2 separate regions of the Homo sapiens genome follow, and region 2 is linked to region 1. A link means that fine-mapping ties the variant in region 1 to the plasma level of a protein whose gene starts in the linked region. Region 1 holds a variant in brackets. A gene starts in the other region. All regions are shown on their reverse strands. Region 1 overlaps NUTM2F (NUT family member 2F). Region 2 holds the start of CNTN5 (contactin 5).

The links. A credible set is the group of variants that fine-mapping cannot tell apart. PIP is the chance, under the fine-mapping model, that this variant and not a neighbour inherited with it causes the effect. Protein levels are from antibody-based Olink assays in UK Biobank. Linkage for the fine-mapping came from a reference panel and not from the study's own genotypes, which makes the PIPs less certain.
Region 2: CNTN5 starts here. The variant in region 1 is the best candidate, but not a certain one, in a credible set for the plasma level of the CNTN5 protein (UK Biobank, PIP 0.54).

The regions. Positions count from the first base shown.
Region 1 is chr9:94,313,647-94,321,978 of GRCh38, reverse strand. It overlaps NUTM2F (NUT family member 2F), which reads left to right. Exons shown (of 7, transcript NM_017561.2): 4 at 747-886; 5 at 1,386-1,771; 6 at 2,250-2,366; 7 at 2,729-3,781. The coding sequence ends at 3,514. It overlaps LOC105376154 (a long non-coding RNA gene), which reads right to left. Exons shown (of 3, transcript XR_930132.4): 2 at 6,969-7,118. Among named protein-coding and RNA genes, the nearest start is that of NUTM2F, 11 kb to the left of the region's middle. RefSeq lists an enhancer at 2,815-3,494. The variant C/T (reference allele first, on the strand shown) is at 1,218.
Region 2 is chr11:99,016,282-99,024,613 of GRCh38, reverse strand. It overlaps CNTN5 (contactin 5), which reads right to left and starts at 3,665. Exons shown (of 25, transcript NM_014361.4): 1 at 3,344-3,665. RefSeq lists a silencer at 1,088-1,288.

The DNA of each region.
Region 1 (8,332 bases):
CCAACCGCTGTCTTGACACTGGGGGTCATGGCGGGAGCAGCCAGCATCGCAGCCCAAAGGGGGTCTCCTCCAGCTGTGGGGATGGGGAGAAGGGGTGCTAGTGACTAAAGACAGAGTGGGGGGCAGGCTCCTCACAGCAGTGGCCAGAAGTCGGTTTTCTCCCATCCCAGCCTGGCCAGGGAGTTGGGTCAGGGGAGACCTGTACCTGGGACACCATGAGACCCCTCTCTGGCCTGACTGCCTTTGCTCCTGGGCAGAACCGTCCGTGAAGACAGACAGACAGCAGCCTCAGGGGAAACGGGCCCTGTCCTCTGGGCTCAGCTTTTGCTTCCTCCTGACCAGGGGTCTCCCGGGCCTCGTGTCCCTGGGTTATCCTTCAGGGGCCCACAGTCCCAGCCTCAGGACTCCTGCATCTGGGCATCATCCCTGACGCCTTCTGCCATCAACCCCACCCCCGGCCAGCTGATACCTGGAGGAGGGGTTCCCGGGACCCTCCTGGACCTCGTGGCCCTGACTTGAGTCAGGAAGCCCCATTGATGCCATGGGCTCTGCAGGGGCCGGGTGAGGGAGGGTGAGCCCAGAACTCTGGGAGCAGCTCCCTCCTGGGACTGGGGGATGGGTCCCAGTGAGGGCCTGGACAGCCCGCCGGAGGCACTCCCTCCCATCCCTGCCCTCAGCTGCTGCCTGGTCCTGGGGGGAGGGGGCCTGGACCCTCTCAGCACAGCCTGGGCCTCCTTCACCCACAGGTTCCTGGAATTTGAGGCTGAGGAGGAGATGCAGATTCAGAAATCGCAGTGGATGAAGGGGCCCCAGAGCCTGCCTCCTCCAGCCCCGCCGAGGCTTGAACCTCGAGGACCCCCTGCCCCTGAGGTGGTCAAGCAGCCAGGTACAGCTTCCCACATTCCCACAGGAGCCATGGCAAAGGCCAAAGGGGCCAAGGGAGGCCACTGTCCCCACACCCCATGCTTCCCTTCAAGAGGGGGATTTGCTCCCTCCAACAGGACAGCTTCCGGGAGTGTATGTTGGGTATTGACCAGGTGAATACCTACTTCATGGGTGGCCCGTGATCACGAAGCAGGGTATTGACCGGGCCAAGTTTCCTACTTTCTCTCTCCCCTTGCCTGTCCAAAACTCCACATATGCTCTGCCCAGGAAGCAGAGATGAGCGGGGAGAGTACACGGCATATCGGTGGCTCCAAACTTCCTCCCAAGCGATG[C/T]TGTCTCAGATGTGCCCCTCCTGTGGCGTCTCCTCCGGGGCGCTGTGGTTCAGGTGGTCCTGACCCAGCTGGGACCCACTTCACATCCCCAAGCCCTGCCCTCCCCTGTGTGGTGCAGGCAGGAGGAGCGGCCCTCACCACACCCATCCTCCTCCCTCTCTGCCTCAGTGTACCTTCCCAGCAAGGATGGCCCCAAGGCCCCGACTGCCTGCCTGCCACCACCCAGGCCCCAGAGGCCAGCGGAGACCAAGGCCCACCTGCCACCACCCAGGCCCCAGAGGCCAGCGGAGACCAACGCCCACCTGCCACCACCCAGGCCCCAGAGGCCAGCGGAGACCAAGGTCCCTGAGGAGATCCCCCCTGAAGTGGTGCAGGAGTATGTGGACATCATGGAGGAGCTGCTGGGGTCTCACCCTGGGGACACAGGGGAGCCTGAGGGACAACGGGAAAAGGGCAAAGTGGAGCAGCCGCAGGAAGAGGACGGGATAACCTCAGACCCGGGCCTCCTGAGCTACATTGACAAGCTGTGTTCCCAGGAAGACTTTGTCACCAAGGTGGGCTTGCCTGGAGTGCTGTGGTCTGTAGGATTCCAGGGGGTGGCACTTCCAGGTCCTTGGAATTAAGCTCTGTTCCTTAGCTACTCAGTAGTATGTGTATTTCCATGGATTTGAGTGTCTGTGTATGTGACTGTGTGTGTCTGTGTGTTGCTGTGTGTTTGTGTCTGTGATTTGTTACTGTGTCTTTGTGTGTCTGTGTGGGTGTGAGTGTGGAGTGTGTATGTTACCTGTGTCTGTCTTTTCCTGTGTTGTACATGGGTCTGTGTGTCTGTGTGTGGTTTGTGTGTCTCTGTCTGTATGTGTGTATGCTACGAGGTCTGTGGTCTGTGCGTGTAGCTGGTGGTCGCCATGATATGAAACAGCCCCAGGAGGGTGGGAATGGGGCCCTCCCCGCTTTCTGCATCTCCTCCGGGTGTCCTTGGCTCCAGGTTACTCCCTCCCCAGGAAGTTCACACCTTCTTCCTTCTGTTTCCAGGTGGAGGCCGTCATTCACCCCCGATTCCTGGAAGAATTGCTTTCCCCAGATCCACAGATGGATTTCTTGGCCCTAAGCCAGGAGCTGGAGCAGGAGGAAGGACTCACCCTTGCCCAGGTAGAGCAGCGGAGGGAGGGGAACCCAGGTACTCCAGGGGCAGGAGGGACCCGGCACACAAGGCCCACCCGATTGTCTAAGCCCACCCTGCTGGGGATGTTCAGCTTCTTGGGGAGCCACTCCGGGGTGGGAAGATGCAGGTTCAGAGGGAGTAGGATGGAGAGGAGCCAGGGAGGGGAGTCAGGATGCAAGCTGCAGTGAGGCCCAACGGGATGCCCGGCAGAGCCACACCCTCTCTCTTTGACATGAAGCCCAGCTGCCTCAGGCTTCCCTGCCTCCCACCCAAGTGCCCTGGTCTCCACCATTCTGGGCCCTGCTCACACCTGGGGCAGCGCCAGTAAGTGCCCCCTTTCCTTCCGCAGCTAGTGGAGAAGCGCCTCCTGTCCTTGAAGGAGAAAGGGTGCGGGAGGGCAGCCCCTCGACATGGCACGGCCAGGTTGGACTCAAGTCCTTCTGAGTTTGCAGCTGGCCAAGAAGCAGCGAGAGAGGTCCCTGACCCCCAACAAAGGGTCAGCGTGGAAACCTCCCCACCCCAGACAGCTGCCCAGGACCCTCAGGGACAGGGCAGAGTGCGCACTGGCATGGCCAGGTCCGAAGACCCTGCTGTGCTTTTGGGATGTCAGGATTCCCCCAGGCTGAAGGCTGTCCGGCCAACCTCTCCTCCCCAGGACCACAGACCCACCTGCCCCGGCCTGGGGACCAAGGACGCCTTGGGTCTCCCTGGAGAGTCTCCTGTCAAGGAGTCACATGGGCTGGCTAAGGGGTCAAGTGAGGAGACGGAACTCCCTGGCATGGTCTATGTCGTGGGTTCCCACCACAGGCTGAGGCCCTGGAGGCTGTCCCAGAGCCCTGTCCCTTCCTCGGGCCTTCTCAGCCCAGGAGGGAGAGGACCCCAGGGAGCTCTTCAGTCTCCATCTGCTCAGAAAAGAGGCCTCAGCCCATCACCTTCTCCTGCCAGCAAGTCCAAGAAGCGACCTCTCTTTGGAAGCCCATCCCCTGCTGAAAAGACACCGCACCCAGGGCCTGGGCTCAGGGTCTCTGGGGAGCAATCCCTGGCTTGGGGGCTGGGTGGCCCCTCACAGTCTCAAAAGAGAAAGGGTGACCCCTTGGCCTCCAGGAGGAAGAAGAAGCGGCATTGTAGCCAGTAGGGGCCGCCATGGGGCAGACTCTCTGATGCCAGTCCCCAAAAGTGGGGCTCTGAAGTCTCGGACCCTCATGGCACCCGGTGCCCCAAAGCAAAGGCTGCTTCTCCTCCAGTGCTGATCTTGCTGGGCCTTAGCTTTGGAGGGTAGGGGAAGGAGGGGAGGGAGAAGGTGGCTGAACGGGGAGGGCAGGAAGGGAGGGCCTGGGGGGTGGGAAGCAGTGCCTTGGGGGCCTTGTGTGTAAATGTGAATAAATGTAGTTGTTTTGGAAAATGCTCTCAGGGCTGCTGCCTCTGCCCTTGGCGTTGTGCTGCTTTGTGGAGGGTGTCTGTGAGGCCTCAGGGCTGAGGAACTGGGAGAGGCCAGGCACTGGGAACCCACAGGGGCTGGCCCCACTCTTTTCTCCTGTTATAGGGGGCCCCTTCAGATGCTCTGGGGACTGACAGATGCTGAGGAAGCCCTGATCCCTCCCACCATCCACTCACAAGGCCCCGCCTGCTTTAGGGAGGCTTCTCGGGGCCTCCCATCATTATCAGTATCCCTGGAAAATCCTGGGATGGAGAGAGCTGGCTGGCTTTTTTTCTGCTCGGTGGGAGCTGAGGAGAAGGCAGCTGCCTGCAACATGGACATGGGGAGAGGCGGCTGCTCCTGCTTAACCCTCATCAGGAAGAGCACGGGCACTGGGCTGAGGGGAGACGTTGAGGTGACCGTCCACATGGGTGTGTTTGGGATATGATGAGGGGCGCAGAGCAGGGGCCTGTTTCTGGGCAGGAGAGAGTCTTGTCCAACTGGCTGAAGCAGATGCTCCTTGCTGTGGCCACATGGAATGGCCTCAGGGGCCCTCAGGGTCTTGCATGGAGCTCCCCCAACAGCTATGATTCCCTTCCCATATGATGACTGAACTCGTGTGGAATTGATGTAGACACAGATTTACATTGGCATCTAAAACAGTTCCCTCCCAACACACCATCACCAACGGGAACAAGCATGACCAGCCTGCCAGGCGCAAGGTGGGTGTGTCTGCTGGTCCCAGGGCCAGGAGAAGCTGGGGCCCAGGCCGAGAGGGGCCGAGGGTCAGTCGCCCTTCTGCCAGGCACAGACCCCAAGGGCAGAGCAGGGGCTGCCTGGGATGTGGCACTGGCTGTCTGGGAAGTGCCCTGAGAGTCGGGGGCCAGGTGTTCACTGAAGGGAGACTTCTGGAGTCTACGAGTGAGATGAGGACTGCATCAGGAGAGGGACTGAGGCTGGGGAGGATACTCTGCTTTTTCCCAGGTTGTCCTGTCCTCCCCATCTCTGCTGAACTCCCCTCACCCCATGTGGCCGACCTCTGCCCCCCTTACCCCTAACCCACCTCTCAGAATCTCAGATCCCAGCATGGACAGGACCCAGCACCTGCCCTGGTTCCCTCCTGGCCAACACCTTCTTCTCCACAGTCTGAGTTCTGATTCCTCCCCAGGGCCCTTGTTGGCTCAGGACCGCTGTGACTGCCAGAGCACTGGTCCCAGCACTGCCCGCATGCAGAGCTGTGGTCATGGTGCTGGGAGTTGGCCCAGCAGCAGAAGCTGATGGGGCAAAGCTCTCTGGTATATGGCGGCCTGGTCCCTCTGCCAAGTGACAAAGGGAGCCATGTTTGGGTTCTCTCTGGCCCCATCTGCCCACAGAACACAGCAGTCAGCCAGACAGATGCCTCTCTGCCCCATCCCTTCCGCTCCATGTGGGCAGTGTCGGAGGCCTGCCACCCGCTTTCGCCTTTGGGAAGGAGAGTTTATCTTGGCAGGGCTTCCCCAGCTGAGGGCACAACAGGCCCTTGGGGAAAATGTGGGGAGTGAAGAGTCACTGGTGGGTGATGTGGGCAGCTCCCGTGACTCCTCTACATTCAGGGCCATCCTCAGGAGACAAGGTAACACCTCCCCTTTGCAGGGTTTAGGAATGTTAAGTGAGCCGTGTTTGAAGGGAATGTGGTCTGTACTCTGGCGTGTGTGGGTGCTCAGCCAACTTCCTCACCTAAGTGTGAAAGTGATACCTTGGTTTAGTGACACCTCGGGGCTTCTGCTGGTTTACCCCACTAGCTGTTTCCTGCCCCACTGTCCCTGTCCTTGTTTTGGCTGAGCCATTTCCAAGAGGCAGAACCTATGCTTCCTTCACCTCTGTGTCCCGCCTGAGCCCTACAATCTGCCCCTAAATGGGCACAGTGGGGCTGACTGGGGGACTCTGATGGACTTAACATGTGTCCCCCCCGCCCAGTTCCTGTGGTGAAGCCCTAACTCCTAACGTGATGGTATTTGGAGATGGGGCCTTTGGGAGTTACTCAGGGTTAGAAGAGAACATGAGGGTGGGGCCCTAATGATGGGATTAGGGCCATGGTAAGAAGCAGAGATCCCAGCACTCTCTCTCTCTCCCTGACATGAGGACACAGTGAGAAGGCAGCCGTCTGCAAGCCAGGAAGAGAGCCCTCACCAGAACCTCACCTTGCTGTGACCCTAACGTCAGACTTCCAGCCTCCAGACTGACAAATACATTTTGTTTCTTAATACGCACCGCCTCCCCCACCCACCAAGTCTAGGACACTTTGTCCTAGCAGCCCTATGTGACTAGGACAAGGTCCATCATCTCAGGAACTTCCTTCCTGACTGGTATCTGGAAACTGTATCAGAGCCATGGGAAAGAATGAAGAAAGGCTCGGCTCTTTACGACTGTCAGCACACCTCCACCCCAAGTGCAGTGTATCACACGTGAACCAGTACTGCTGTGGGACACAGTGCAAGGGAATCTGTAAACACCCATGACATCGTCATATCCACACTTGGGGAAGCCAAGCAGCTTGCTCACAGCAGGTGCTGGGGGTATGCTGAGGCTCTCGGTGGGTTTGGTCTCCCTGCTCACGCAGCCAGGTCACTCTCTGGGAGCCAGTGCAGTTGGGGCGGCCCCGGGCAGGTTTGCCTCCAGAAACCACTCCCTTCACCACTGGACAACAGATCCCTGAAGAAGCCATGGCCTCCTGAGAAACTCCATCTGACAATGTGAGCAAGGCCGGCCCCCGTTAGTAAACATGCAGTGCTTTCTGACAGCTACCAGGATGGACTTGCTCCAGGTGGCTGCCCTTTTGTAGCTGCACTTTGATTCTAACTTCAGCATCCCATGATGTCCTTCAGGTCTTGGTGCCCTGGGCAATGTTAGTGAGAGTCACCTGGTTTGGGGGATCTGGGCCAGGCTGCCCCCTCCTGGCCAATCGGCTGATACCCGGCCAGGGCTGCCAGAGTCATTGTCACTGAGTCCCTGACCATTACTGGGTGCAGACTCTCAACAGTGGCCCCCACCCTGGCACATCCCCTGTGAGGGAGCTGATACGCTGGGTTTTACTGAATTCTGAGTTATGATGTCATTGAGCATGCTTTGTCTGCACACTTGTGCCCTTTGAGCTCATTTTAGGCAAATGTATCCGGACTAAGGTTGTATTTACCGATGGTTCATTTTCCGTCCTCATCTCAGTCCTCGGAAGGATGAATTCCACCTCTCAGGCCATGGTCCTTCCTCAGAGTTTCCTTTGTCTTAGTTCATTCCAAAGATCATGTTGTAGGGACGTTTATCACGTATACGGTATTTGCATAAACTGTATGAGCGATTAAAAGATATTCTCTGACATTAAACACAAACAACATAGAAATCTCACGGGTGACGATAGGATCACAAGATTCCTAATAAATGTTAAGTGGATGGTTACTCAAGGTAAATCCCTTCATCCCCTTGCCCTTCATTAGAATAGACAGAAACTGACTGTATACAGGCTTTACTCCTTTATAATGTGCCAAAATAAAACCCCAAAGCACAAATCGCACAAACCAAGTCATGCCACTGGGACCATCGTGTGTCATCTGAGCTAGCTGGGCCATGCCAACTCCTACTCCATCTTCTGCTTTTCCCTGCATTCCTCAGGAATGAGAGCTTCTGTGTGAGCATTCATAAGACATCCTGCATTCACGTCCACTGATGTGTTTTCTTTTTTAAAAAACTATGCACATTTTATTAGGAATGTTTCAACCACATAGAAAACATATAATAGAAACCAATATAGACACCACATAGACGTGGGCCATGTTAACATTCTACCGTTTGCTCATTTTTTAAATAAAACCTTTATGAAGACATTCACATAGCATGCTTTCACTCATTGAAATTGTACAATTTGGGTTTTTCATAGAATTTGCCACCATCACCACATTAAATATATTTATAGAATTTGCAACCATCACTGCATTAAGTCTACTTATAGAATTTGTAAGCATCATCACTATAAACTTTAGAACATTTTTATCACCTCAAAAAGAAAACCCCTAGGCTGGGTGCAGTGGCTCACGCCTGTAATCCCAACACTTTGGGAGGCCGAGGTGAGTGAATCACTTGAGGTGAAGAGTTCAATACCAGCCTGGCCAACATGGTGAAACCCCGCCTCTACTAAAAATACAAAAATCAGCTGGGCATGGTGGCACACATGTGATCCCAGCTACATGAGAGGCTGAAGCAGGAGAATCGCTTGAACCGGAGAGGCGGAGGTTGCAGTGAGCCGAGATAGTGCCGCTGCACTCCAGCCTGGGTGACAGAGTGAGACTCCATCTCAAAAAATGAAGAAGAAAAAAAAACCCTTGTCCTTTAGCTATCACCCCCTGCCCCCCACCGATCTACATCCTAGGCCTACATAACCACGAACTGATTCTATATAGCTTTACATGCTCTGGACTTGCATATGAATGGAATCATACAATATATGTCTTTCACACCTGTCTTATTTTACTTTAAATATTTCCAAGCTTCATCCATGTTTTTAGC
Region 2 (8,332 bases), not on the chromosome of region 1:
ATATAAAACTAAAGACGTGTGTTTTAATTTATGGGGATTAATAGACATAAAATTATCTACAATTAGCTTATGCAAATATTTATAATAGGCAAAACATAACTGAAGTTATACAGTGTTGTGTCAATTTCTTGGGATTCAATTCAATACTTCAAAATAATTTTGATGAAAGAAATCCATTGTAAAACCAGTTTTCTTAAAAAGCAAATTCATGTTTCCCTTTAAAAATTGCTTTTATAGCCACTGTATTAAAACACTATATTTTGTGTCATTCAATTTAAATAAAATAATTAACTAAAACACTGTTTAAGTGTCTGGAAAAAACATAAACTAATAATATTCAGTTTATTAGAACACTTCTAACAATACACATTTGAATCTCCAAAAATCATAAAACAGGATTTCTTACTTGAGTGGGTAGGGAGATGGAATATAGTTCATAATAGTTTTTAATCTTAAATCTTAAGCATTAGGAGTTTTATATACTTCATTACTTTTTAAAATGTACCAGCCTCTAATGTGGAGTTATTGATCACAAATGCTCAGAAAATAGACCTCTGCAGTGATTCTACCGCTTTGAGCTTCCGACCAGTCTCTTTCCTGCTATAAAGTGTTAAGAAGTTCATGTAACATGTTAGCACAGCCTTACAACACGGTTCTTAACATCTTGTGAGAAACATATTACTCTCTTACTTTATGCTTGGATTGTCAGAAAGAAGAAAGAGAGATAAAATCAACTCCTGGAGTCAGAATTTCAAGAAAACAAACTACATGAATGTATGAGTTTATTATTTAAAGTAAGAGAAATAAATTTCCAACGACTTGGTAAAAATTTAAAAACCCGTATTTTAAAAGAAAGTTCAAAGACAATAGGTAATCAAGATACATGAGAAAGAATGGATTCGGCAAATTACAATATTGTAAATATCTGAGCCTCATAAAATTCTGGATTAGTTTTTGACTGATGAAGGAGACACTAAACTCTGCTACAACTTTGTTTTAGCCAATCAAACTCTCTACAGTCAAATCATCTTCACAGTATTACAGCCATCTAGAGAAGTTTTCATCATTTTTATTTTAATCTTCACAAATTATGCCTTTATTTTGTCTAGAAGTAAGACAAACTCCAAAATGCTTTGGCCAGCCTATGCGGGCCCTTTGCCCTTTACTGGCACCCTCTGGTCCATATTGCTAAGTCAGCTGTGACAGACAATCACACTCCTACCTCTACCCTGAAAGTGGTCAAGATTTTCTAAACTGTGAAGTAAAAGAGACATTTAAAGAAATACATATCAGCCAAACCTGGTACATTTCTAACAGATAGCGCTACTTAATTGGACACATAAGATTGAAGTAAATTTTTACATGCTACTAATTTTAATGATTCATCTTACATAAACATATTCTATGTATAGATTCATGATTTGATTTCAGGTTGGCTCCCTGACTAAGAATTGTTTCAGACCACCTAATACTTGAAGTACTAACTGCTCACCTTGAGAAACATTCAGGTATTTCAGCTATTCATTTAAAAATTCCACAACTGTAGCTTTTTGGATGTATTTCCAAAAGCACCTTGGTGTGCATGTGCCTCACAACTTATAGACAAAGTCCGGCATTTAGTTAATCTATGGGATTATATTTTTATATAACTTTTAAGAATCTAACTTTCTGTTCAGTTGTCTATGGAATCAGAAAGAAATTAAAATTAGCAGTTTTTCTCCTCCTTTCTCAATTTTCAGAAGTTTTAAATAATTTAAAGGATACACCAATTCCTAAGCAAAAACACTGGCACTTGTAATAATCATTTCACTGACTTTCTATTTTCAGATAGGCTTTAATATCATTCCCTCACACTCCAGCTATTTGTCAAATTCTATTCTTTATATTGAATTTCCCTTTTTATAACTTTAACTCTGATTTTTTTTGCCTTTTTCCCTTTAATGGACTTAGATGATCTTTTTATGTAATATCTTTAATTTGTTATCATTAGTTTTATATGACATATTCTTACTCATACCTCTTTTCGATTAGAGTCAGAGTAAACTTATGCCTGTTAAGTTTAAGACTCAGCATACTAGTCCCCACTTAACTTAGAATAATTTGAGCATGAAATAGGAGAATATGCAAGCAACCATGAGAATTGCTCAAAATTGACTACAGGCATTTTCAAAAACAGTTAATGACCTAATCATTATTTTTTAAAATACTGAGAGTCACAATATTAATCATAATGAACTCCTTTAAGCTCCCTGTAATGGTCATAAGTACTTCTGTAATTCTGTTGCAATTCAACAGTAATCGATGATATCTGCATTAATTTTTAAATTTGACTATTTGTCTATAATTTTAAATGCTAGTATTCTAATGAACATCTACTTCTTTCATCCTTATTTCCACAGTCGTAATTGAGAATCAAAGTAGAAGTATTGACCCTCTAAATGATTTTCTCTTTTAAATTAAGAAACAAATGAATGAAATGTAGGTAAGGCATTGAACATACAACAGTTTAAAAGTTTTTTGCTTCTCACCTGCATTTAAATTACCACATGAAATTGTATTTTTCTTGGGAGAACAGTTCTAAGATTTAAAAGTAATATAATTCTAAAATATTTAGTGGATTCTGGTTCTTTCGCAAATAAATATAGTTGAAACAACTTATTGTTCAGGTCATCAGAGTAATTCTCAGGTTTGTGTATGTGCAAATTGATATTCTCTTCCGTATATCTCCCTACAAAACATGGTAAGGATGTCTGAACATAATTTTTTAATCTATCACAATCCTATACAACCTTTAGAAAAAAGCTCAGCATAATCCAAGATACAGTTTTTCTCAGTCTCACGAACTTTGTAGAACTCCACTTATAGAGCATCCCTACTGAATTTTAACAAGTTATTGCAATGCCAGATGCCCAATTATTTAGTCTCGGAAACTCATTGCTCAAACATAAGGCATACATTCAGTACCTGAGAACGGCATCCTATTTTCCAAACATTTAGTTTCTTTTGTAGAAACATCCTCACTTTATCCTGGCATTTATTGCCTTACAATTTGCAATTTGCGTGTAGGAATTGCTTACTCTTATTTTGGGTGGCATTAGGAGATATACAAATAGGTTATATTTACTCTTGTTTCAACTTTTTGCCATAAAATCCCAGCAGGAAATAAAGTCGTGTTTTGTTTCCTTTATTTAAAAAAGCTTCATCTTACAGTTTTTACATTCTGGCAACATGGCAAGAAAGGATGGCTTTGCAGAACAGAGTGTGTCAAAAATCCTAAGTGGCTGGGAGATGAAGTGCACAATCACAGAACGCAGTCACTGGCAAAGGAATGTCAGCCACTTACCAATAAGATGCCAGACTCCACTGTCCTTCCTCTGTGACTCTCAATTCCTGTCTCCCATCCTCCTGCCCATCAGCACAGTTCAGAGAGAGCGGTTCCTCGGGTCCTTTGCAGCCTGTGGCAGAGGCGAATTGCGGAGTTCTTAATCATTCAGAGGGAATCCTCCAGCTTGCCCTGCCTCTCGCAGCAGACGGGACCCAGGTAACGCATCCTCTCCGCCCCGAGCTTTAATGGCACTTTGGCTGCCGCCTTCTCGCAGTTCCGCTCCCCCACGCCGTAGTTGGTTATATTGGGAAGTAGGTGCGGCGCCTCCTGCGGCTGGTGTGTTTGGGGCTCGCGTGTTTTCCTCCAATGCGTCCGCGCGCCCTGCGCCCCGCGCCTCTGACTGGCTGTGTCCTCCCGGGGCGGCCCCTCGCCCCTCCCCGGCCGCCCGCGCTGTCACCGGCGCCCGCGTCCAGCGCCTCACTGCCTCTTGCTGCAAAGGTTCATTGAGCATGTCCCTGGGCTTAACGAACTGTGCGCCTCCCGGAGGGTGCTCTGTGTTTCTCCACTCGTCTCACTAGTCAACCGGCATTTTCCTTCCCTGCTAAGTACAGAGGACCTGCCCCCCTTCCCCGAGCGTTTCTGCTCTGCAACCCCTCCGTATTTAACATTCATAGATTACAAAGCAAACGTGCTGGCTGGAGTCGGCACGGGAGATCCAGGCGAGAGTCCCTTCCTCCGCTCCTGTCTTCACTCTGATTCCTGTAGTCCCCGGCTCACACCTCTGACAGCAGCAGCACAGACTGACGCGTTCACTTAGGTCGGTTTGAGAGTGGACTTTTTCACTTTGCAGAATTTTCTTAAGTCCTGAATGGGAAGCACTTCTCTTTTGTTTCTGCACTTACGCGTTTCATCTAAGGACTATCAGGCTCTGCCTGTTTATATTTCTCTTTGATTTGGGGTGTTGACTCAGTTCTAAAAAAAAGCGAAGGAATGGTCTCAGCAACCTTTTTTTCGGAATTTTTATATTACAATGGCTGTAATTGGAAAAATAACACAGGTAGTAAATCCACAGTGTGGCAGCTTTAGTGCCATTGTTCTGCCAGTCCTCCTCTCTACTTTTTTTTTTTTTTTCCTCTCAGTCTTTGAGTCGTTTTCCAATTCCCACGATTGGGCTGATGGTAATTGGGTATTTGTTAAATAAATTATATAACATTTCCTTTGCAATATATTTCCATAGAGAATGTGGTTTGCACCTGTATTTAATGGAAAGGAAATCCCACGTACTGCTTTCTATCTCTGTGTCTGTATAAGAAACTGCATGGGAGTCTAGGGTCGCACCCCGTGTCCGCTGGTGTCCGTTTTTCATGTGTGTTTGAGAGCAGCCTGACCCTGGACTGACGCTGATTCTTCTGCTCACTGAATCCCCCGATGGGGTCTGACTGGCTCTAATTGGCAAGGAGAGTACAGTGCCAGGCAGCCTGTAGCTGGAAGCCGTCTACCACTAGCCCTGTGTTCTTTCTCTTGCAGTTTTTCTGGTAATTAAAATTAGTCTTTTCCTGTTTCTTGGCTGCTTCTCATTCATCCAATGATGTACAAACACCCAGTCTCTGCTTTTAATCGCTATCCTCAGGATCTAGGCTGATTGCTTGTTCTGTAGCAAAGACAAATTTGTGTGCATTTAATACTTCTCCACTCTTCCATACTTTTTATATTCGTGTTCCTGCTTTCCAGTAACTAGGTTATCTTCTTTATGTGTTAACTGAGGGATCGTTGTGGAGATTCCCCTTCTGTGGCTTTTTCTCTGCCCCACTGGCTCTTCTCCTCTGTCAGGCTGTCGGTTCACAGAGAGAACTACCAGGACTTTTATAACCACATTAAATACATCACAAAATAAATTCAAAGTGTAGGAGCTCTAACGCATTCTTTTTATTGTTCGATGAGGTTTTTGCCTTTAAAAGTGTATAATTGAGCACATGCAGCCTGAAAGAGGGATCGGGAGTGTAGAAAGCTTTCTGAAAGTTCTCTTCCCTTCTTAGAACACCATTCTATATTACCCATGATCCGATAATTTGGGCATTTTGAGTCATTATGTCACATAATTTCTTTCAACTAGCTTTGCCCTAGAAAGGATGTAAGTTGGCTTATAAAAATCTATTCAGTTTAAAAAAATGAATAAAAAATGTAGGTCAGTGAGATCAAGACAAACGGTAAAGTGATAGGAGGAGAGATAAGATGAAGCCAGAAATGAGGTTTATAGAGAAAACTGCATTGATGTTTTTGTTACAAATGGTGCTAGGTCTGCCATTAACTTTGTTAGCAGCCAATGTAAAGAAGGAAATGCTATCGGTCACATGATTCATGGTGCCCTCCTACCATTAACATGAACAAGAAAATTTACCTTTTACATGATGTAAATGGACTAAATATTTCTCCTTTCTTAAGCAAGAACTAAATAAAAGCTTTTAATGTTTCTACTTTTTATAAAGAGAGCAATATTATCACAAGACTATGGTGTGAATATATTTTTGAAACAAGTAGATAATGTAATAGCACTTTTCCTTGCGAAGTTATCTGATGCTTTAGAGGGAGAGAAAGGAAACGTTGAATCTGTTTAATTAAAAATAGTAAGGTCTATTTCTGTCAGTTCAAATTTAAAATGTTGACTTCAATCATTATTTGGGGGTGACTAGGTTACCTGGCTACACTTCATTCAGGACCCAGAAAGAGTGACTATATTTATTCTCATGTCTTTTATGACTTTTAATGTTCTAATTTGTAATAATATACAATTATATATTCCCTATTAATATCTATATATGTAACAGACAAACTGTTAGTCTATCTGACTCATCTTTCTTTAGAATTTTGCTGTTATGGAGTTAACTTATGTACTGTATATTTTTACAATTTTCTGCTTGGAGAGTAAGGGCTCTATAGATCAGGTACACTTCTGTATCCTTTTATATCCACAGTGTTCAGGTTTAAGCAGGTCAATGTCTGGAATTAGAGAAACAACAGTGCTTAAAATAAGAAACAAACAAACAAAACTCCTTGTTAGAGTTCCACTAAAAAGAAACAAACTACCTTGTGTTTTCCAAGTAAACATCAAATCTTTTCACATACCATGACCAAGATTTTCTACTATTGACATGTGAGAATGGGATTTTAAGTTATAGTTGTTTTGATGTAAGATTTGTCTTTAAAAGATATAAAAGTATGTATGCCCCATTATTAAATTCCAATGCTGTTTTCTTAATAAAATGGCATTATTAAAAGATCACTGGTTTTCTCTGTTTGATGCTAATGACATTTTTGAATTAACCAGCTCATCCTGTACCCTGGTAAAATATCATTTGTACATTAAGTTAATTAAAACATTGTTTGTAAGTGGGGTAAGTGGTTCAGTAGGTCACTTTCTCTATGCTATGGTTATGACACCTCAACCTAGCTGTCATGTTGCTGATCTGATCTTGTTGTCTAGCCATCTTTGTGTAAATGTCTTAATCTCTTTATCTCATCGTCCCCAATGGGCAAGCAAGCAGATGCAGCACATCTGTAGCAGTTGAGGTGCCTCTGAGCTTTTGTCTTATTTGTGTAACAGATTTTTATTGAAATCATGCCCTCCTTTCTCTTTCCCTTCATTTGACTCAGATAAGTTCTAGGTTCTAGTTAACAGATCATAACTATTATTATGTTCCATCAAATCATAGCATAACTGTAGGGAAGCAGACCAATGGTGAATTCATGTCTAGATCAGTCATCTTTCTTGGATCATCTGCCTTGCCTACTGGAGCTTCTTTTAGCATTTGCATTTTCTGTTTTGATGTTTTAATCCTCTATGTTAATGTGTTACCAATAATGGTGAATGGGTAAGTACTAAGATAAAAATTAAAGGAATCAAAATCTTGCATTTTCAATATATGCCAGTATTCCCTATAAGTGCAAAGTAACACATGAAGAAGCAAAAGTAAACTTTTACTTGAACTGGACAAAATATGATTTTAATTATATTTTGAGTTTCTTAGAAGATGTGTCTCAGTACTCATATCACAGCTGTTTTGTGAAAGCAGAAGTAAACATATCTTAATCAGACTTGGAAAATATACCAACTTAATTAATTTAACAGCTGCTTCAGTAAACAACGCTAAAGAACATAGTCTACTTTGTGGATGTCTTGATAACATCGGCAACCAAAACCATTAAGAAGTATGAGAGAGGAGCTCTAATTCAACTGTGGTGGTCAAGCTTTTGGTGGTCACAGTACCAACTCTTACTTACAGAAGCTGCAAATATCTAATCTCCTGTAGGTGGAATTTATGCTCACCCTTTGTGACATTTTGGTCCAACTATTTATGCAAACCATAAACATTTGCAGTTAATTAAGATTTTAGAAAATAGAAGTAAAAGTTGAAATCTTACTAATTTAAAGGTAAAGTTTACTTAGTTTTCATCCAGTAGATTCCTTTAGATATGCATTTCTATTTTTTTTTCTTGGATATATTTTAAGTCTCAGGATCTCTATCAGTTTTAATTCACTTACCTTTACAGATGTCTAATTTTTCTTTTATGTAGCATTCTCTCACCAAGACCTCTGGATATAAAGTTGTTTCCATAAAGAAACAAAACCAAAGATTCATTTGCTCATGACCAGGTAAATACCTCTGTATTGTCACTGTTTACATACCATTCTTCTCAGTATGGGATAAAAATGTCTAATGGTTTCTTAGAATTAGTCTAATTTGTTCTTTATGGTTTTAAAGAATGGCCATATGTGTGTTGCATCTTGATCATTTCCCATCTCTTCCCTGTCTCCCAAGTCTGTCAGGTACATTAACTTGACCTGTCTTTGATATTTGGCCCTCCATCAAAATAATCATCCTTCAAAAATATTGCTATCAAATATGATTCTCACCTTTATATATTAGACATTCCTGGTCTCATCTACAATATTTCCAAAATGTACTTAGAATCCAGCTTAAAACATTTTGTGTAGATCTTTAGGTGTAG